Linked DNA regions of Homo sapiens: region 1 is linked to region 2. A link means that fine-mapping ties the variant in region 2 to the expression of a gene that starts in the linked region. Tissue or cell type: whole blood. Region 2 holds a variant in brackets; the other region holds the start of a gene. All regions are shown on one strand. Distances are from middle to middle.

The links. PIP is the estimated chance that this variant, and not a neighbour inherited with it, causes the effect.
Region 1: it holds the start of SEPTIN10, and the variant in region 2 is fine-mapped to the expression of SEPTIN10 in whole blood (TOPMed, PIP above 0.99).

The regions. Positions count from the first base shown.
Region 1 is chr2:109,612,535-109,615,292 of GRCh38, reverse strand. SEPTIN10 (septin 10) reads left to right here and starts at 1,327. Exons shown (of 11, transcript NM_144710.5): 1 at 1,327-1,495. The coding sequence starts at 1,466. SOWAHC (sosondowah ankyrin repeat domain family member C) reads right to left here and starts at 929. Exons shown (of 1, transcript NM_023016.4): 1 at 1-929. The coding sequence starts at 803. It also overlaps a transcript of RANBP2 not described here. RefSeq lists silencers at 876-1,045, 1,306-1,555, 1,586-1,675 and an enhancer at 1,528-2,437.
Region 2 is chr2:109,549,989-109,552,746 of GRCh38, reverse strand. All of the region lies in intron 9 of SEPTIN10 (septin 10), which reads left to right. It also overlaps a transcript of RANBP2 not described here and the pseudogene RPL37P12. Among named protein-coding and RNA genes, the nearest start is that of SEPTIN10, 63 kb to the left of the region's middle. The variant G/A (reference allele first, on the strand shown) is at 1,083.

The DNA of each region.
Region 1 (2,758 bases), 63 kb before region 2:
TCCAGGGGGTCCAGCGTCACGGAGCCTCCGCCGCTGCTCTCCTCCTCCGCGGACGACGAGGCCACCGATGCGCTGTCTGAGTCGCCCCCGCCTCTGCCGCGTCCTCCCCCGGAGGAGCTGCCCGGGCTGCTGCCCCCGGGACACACGCTCCTCTTCAGCTGCGGGGAGCTGCCCATCACCAGGTCACGGAGGTTCTGGCGGGCCGGCCTCTGTGCGGTAGCCCCCACAAGGGAGCTGCCCCTGTCCGCCTCCTCGCAGCCATGTGGCGGGAGCTCCAGGTCCTCGCTGGGCCCCGGGGCTGGAGTCCGCGGTAGGGGCTGCACGTCGCGCCGCGAGTTCTTCCTGCGAGCCCCGGCGCTCAGGGGCGGCCAGTGCGCGGGGGCGGGGGGCTCTCCCTCGCCCAGCTCGCGGCCCTGTCCAGGGAGCGACTCCGGGGCCGCCGCGTCGGGGAGCCGATCGCGCGCCTCGGGCCCGGCAGGGCCGTCGGGGGCCTCGGGCTCGGCGGTCACCTGGATTCGCGGCGGGTCCCCGGAGGGCTCGGACGGCCCTTCACAGAACCTCTTCTTGAGGTGCACGTACTTGGCGCCGTCGGCGGGATCGACGCGCACAGTGGCCACGGCGTTCACCAGCTCCTTGAAGTGCGCGCGGGCGCGGGCGCGCTGCTCCGGTTCGCCGCCTAGGGCGCCCCTGAAGTGCTGCACCAGCTCGGCGTGCAGGGCCCGGCCCCCGCGCTCCGCCAGGAAGCGCAGCACCGCCTCGGGGCCCAGCGCCGCCTCGGGGCCCCACTCTGCCGGCCCCTCCATCCTCGACCGCGCTGCTCCCCCGCCAGCGGGCGGCTCAGCGCGGTCCCATAGCGACGGGCTCCCAGCGGCCGGCTCCCGACGGCGGCGGAGTCTGGCGGGCTCAGCGGGCTGCCAGCCTACGCGTCTGAGGCCAGAGGACTCGGCCACCGCCTCACTGGGCCGCGCCCGGGCGGACACGCCCCCCGCACCCCCGCCCCGCGCCCACGCCACCAGGCCACGCCCACTTCCGCTCCCCGCTGTCTCGGCCACACCTACCTAGGGCGGCCTCGCCTCAAGGCCCGCCCACTTCCGGCCTCGCGAGGGCCGCAATCACTGCTCCGCAGTTCCCGCCTGCATTCCTCGCGCCGTCTTCCTGGAGTCCCAGCTCTCCTTCAGCCCGCCCCAACGCTGACGCTCAGTCCTCAGGCGTCGAGGGTAGCTCCTGTGAGGGGCTCGCTTGGCGCAGGCAAAACGCTCAGCGCGCACCACAGGGCGTCCGCCCCAACCCCGCCCCCGGAGGCCTCCAGCTCGGCCCCGCCCCTGTCCCTTCCCCGTCGCGGAGGCAGCCTAGCCTCGCGCCCCGCCCGTTGCTTCTGCCCTCCGGCCTTCCCGCCGCCGTCGCCGGGACCAGCCGCTCGGGGCCGGGCTGATACAGCCGCTTCACCGTGCCCCTGCCCGCGACCATGGCCTCCTCCGAGGTGGCGCGGCACCTGGTGAGTCCCGCCGACGCCGGGGCCCCAGCCCCGCGCTCCCCGGCCCCCGCGGGACTTCCCGCCCTCGACCCACCGGCCCCCTGGTCCGGCCCGGGATTGTGACCCGCGCCCCCTCCGGCCCCGCCCGCCCAGTGCTCCCCGGCTTCCGCGGCGGCCGGGCGCCTGGGGCGGGAGAGGAGCCTCTGCGGAGCCTGGGCGCGGCCGGACCCCGGTTCGCGGGGCGCGGCGCCAGCGTCGGGACGGTGGGAGAGTTCTTGAACGACTTCCCGGTCTTTGCCAAAAGTTACATCCACAGCGGTGTTTGTGGGTCTCTTACGGCTATAACGGAGTTGAAGGCGCAGTGCGGACTGATTGAATAGCGGTCATCTTTTGCAGCCGTGAGCACTTCCGAGCCTCCCTGCCGCCGGGAGAAAGCCCGGCTCCCCTGGCTTTTCAAAAGCTCTCCCGTTTTATCCGATGGTGTGGTCGTCCAAGTTTTCCTCCATTGGGATTTTAAACCGTTTTTTTCCCGCCTTGACTCTTTTGTACTCTAAAAGAACGCGTTTGTTCACTGTTTTGAACCTTTCCAGTTACTTTTGTAGATTTATCTCGCTTGTTAGTAAGCCAGCGGTTTTCCAAGTGTGGTTACAACTATTTTCGTTAATAGTACCAAGGTCGTGTACATCGAGTTTTCCAAAGGCTACATGGTATGGAGTGATCTCACCGCCGTTTGGAGGCCCGATGCCTGTGTATTCTTAAAAACAAATTCTCCCTTTTAATTTTTGATAGTAAACATTGGTGGTTTTCATCTGTGTAAACAAAAGCTCTTTGGAGGCTGGAGACCAAAAAGTTTGAGAACCACTCTACTAAGCAACCTCCTACATGAGAAGTTTAAATTGTAGAAACAGTTCAGATTGCAGGCTGAGAGATTAGAGGATCCGTCCAAAGTGACACCGTTGGTTTGTTTTATAGAACCTGGACAAAGATTTTTCTCCCTGATTCAGCCCAGGTCTCTTTTCATTCTATCGCGTATTTTTTAAAAATCTCAAATTTTCTGTCTGGACCCCCTTGTCTCAGTTGCTGTGTTTGTGTGCATGTGTGAGTGAGGGAAAATTGAGGGGTCCTGGTGAGGAAAATGTGTTTTATAAATTCTTTGATTCATAGATTACGTATCCAAACAAGCTTGAGCAGAAGAGAACACTTCATTTAGCTGATGTTAGATTTATTTTTAATTGTACTTAATTTGCTTTGAGGCTAACTTTACTTATTTTCGAATTAAACTGT
Region 2 (2,758 bases):
CCTCATTCAACCAGTCTCAGTGGTGGTTTGTCTTTGTTAGTGCCAAGGCTAAAAGAAGAAACACGACTGGATGTTTTCTTATGCCTAGCAGGGTAAGCCACATTTGCCACAGCCCAACTCCTGAAGGTGGTGGGCCTCACAGCCACAGTGGCAACACAGTGTATGCGTCTTACTGTGATGCTTCCCAAACTATGACCTTCCCTTTGTCATCTCACTCCTTTGACTGAGACCAAAGAGAATTTTGGCCTTTTGAGCAAATATTCTTCCATTAGAAATGGTTTACCAAGGGCTTGTAATGGACTAGGTTACTAAGAAGTATCTTAACCATGAGCTATAAACATTTTTACTATGGCTTAATAAAGCCTTTTTTGAGTGTTGCTGGGGTGGTTGTTTGCCCTGAAATGGATATCTGTGAAGGCTGTGAAGTAGCTTTACTTTCCATTTGAACTCAGTCTCTCAGGATGTAGTTAGGTGGTCTAGATCAGTGGTCCCCAACCTTTTTGGCACCAGGGACCCGTTTCCTGGAAGACAGTTTTTCCACGGACCAGGGGAGATGGTTTCAGGATGAAACTGTTCCAGCTCAGATCATCAGGCATTAGATTCTCACAAGGAGCGCACAACCAAGATCCCTCACATGCACAGTTTGCAATAGGGTTTGTGCTCCTGTGGGAATCTAATGCCACCACTGATCTGACAGTAGGCGGAGCTCAGGCAGTAATGCTTGTTTGCCCGCCACTCACCTTATACTGTGTAGCCCAGTTCCTAACAGGCCATGGACCAGTACTGGTCCGCGGCCTGGGGATTGGGGACCCCTGGTCTAGATGACCTTGGGGTAGCCCTGGCACCAAAAAAATCACTGAACTTCTGTAGTTTTGTTTGCTTCTAGTTCTGAAGCAGCAATTTAGGTTTTGAGTAAAGCTATTTTCTTGAAAATACATGATTTCTTGAAGAGTTAATCTGTAATCCAATTGTGCTAGTTTATTATTTCAAATACACTTACAGTACTTGCTATGTAAATGAACTGTGCAGGAAATGGTTTTGTAAAAGTAATAGTTTACTAATTTATTTATAATGCGAATTTT[G/A]ATGTTTTATTTGGAAAAAGTTCAAACAACAGAAAAGTGAAAGTATAGGATACCTATGTCCTTCCCCTTACCTAAGAAAACAGGAATACCATAATCTCACCCAATCTTCAGTCCTTATTCAGATTTCCCCAGTTGCCCCAAGATTGGCTTTCAAAATCGTTCCTTTTTATTTGGTGATTTTTCTGTTTTTGTTTTTGAACCAGGATGCAATCACAGATTGCATATTGTACATGGGTATTATGTTTGTTTAGTTTCTTTTATTCAAGAGTTTCTCATATAGCATGAATCTTAGTTTTACCAATTCACTAATAAAAAGATACCACTCAAAACATTATTTAATTCTATATTAAAGGACTGTTATTTAAATATGTCCTTGCCAATATTGTTGTGAAACAAATATCCCTTAATTTATCTTTTGTATAAATCCATATTTCTATATGTAGCTTTGTAAAATGATGTGTGCTTAGATAATAGTGTGTGAACATTAGATGACTAGAATGGGGAGATGCACAGAACAAATGATGTCTCCAAATATCGTTGACGTTCTGTCTTCCCTATTCCTTTATTGACAAGATTCTAGAAGAACTCATGAGGCATGTTGCATATGACAGACGGATTTCCTATATACCCTCCCCACTTTAAGAAAAAGTACAGTTTATATTTATCCCTCAGGTTACATGACCATCATTATTATTACTACCCAATTTGATATGTCTGTCTATATCTTGGAATAATTTTTTCATTTAACATTTATGCCCCTTGTATTTCCAAAAAGTATGCTCGGTAATTTACAATTTAAAAATGCAGCTACGTTACAACCATGAACATGAGGAGAACAGGAGCCTTATAATACAGGGTACGAAGAAGGGGTTTGCACAGAGGGCAGCCGAGAGCCCTGGTTGAGGGAATTTTTAAGTGAACACAAAGACTGGGCTCTAACTTCTAGGCAGGCAGGGCAGAAGGGACCACACAGAGTTTAGATGGAAGTCATCTGCTAGCTCAGCAGAGAGAAATATTTTCCCTGGCATTTATTTCTAATTTCTAAAAATGGGGCCGGGCGTGGTGGCTCACGCCTGCAATCCTAGCACTTCGGGAGGCCGAGGTGGGTGGATCACTTGAGATCAGGAGTTTGAGACCAGCCTGGTCAATATGGTGAAACCCCATCTCTACTAAAAATACAAAAATTAGCCAGGCATGGTGGCAACATGCCTATAATTCCAGCTACTCAGGAGGTTGAGGCAGGAGAATCGCCTGAACACAAGAGGCAGAGGTTGCAGTGAGCCAAGATTATGCCACTGCACTCCAGCCTGGGCAACAGAGCGAGAATCCGTCTCAAAAAACAAAAAAAAAAAAGATACTTTTTTTTTGTTTTTTGAGACTGAGTCTTGCTTTTGTTGCCCAGGCTGGAGTACAATGGTGCAATCTCAGCTTACCGCAACCTTGGCCTCCCAGGTTCAAGCAATTGTCCTGCCTCAGCCTCCCGAGTAGCTGGGATTATAGGCATGTGCCACCATGCCCAGCTAATTTTGTATTTTTAGTAGAGATGGGGTTTCTCCATGTTGGTCAGGCTGGTCTCGAACTCCTGACCTCACGTTATCCGCCTGCCTCGGCCTCCCAAAGAAAAAAGATACTTTTAAAAGGATCTTTGAGTACGAGAATGTGTCGTGTCCTTAAAA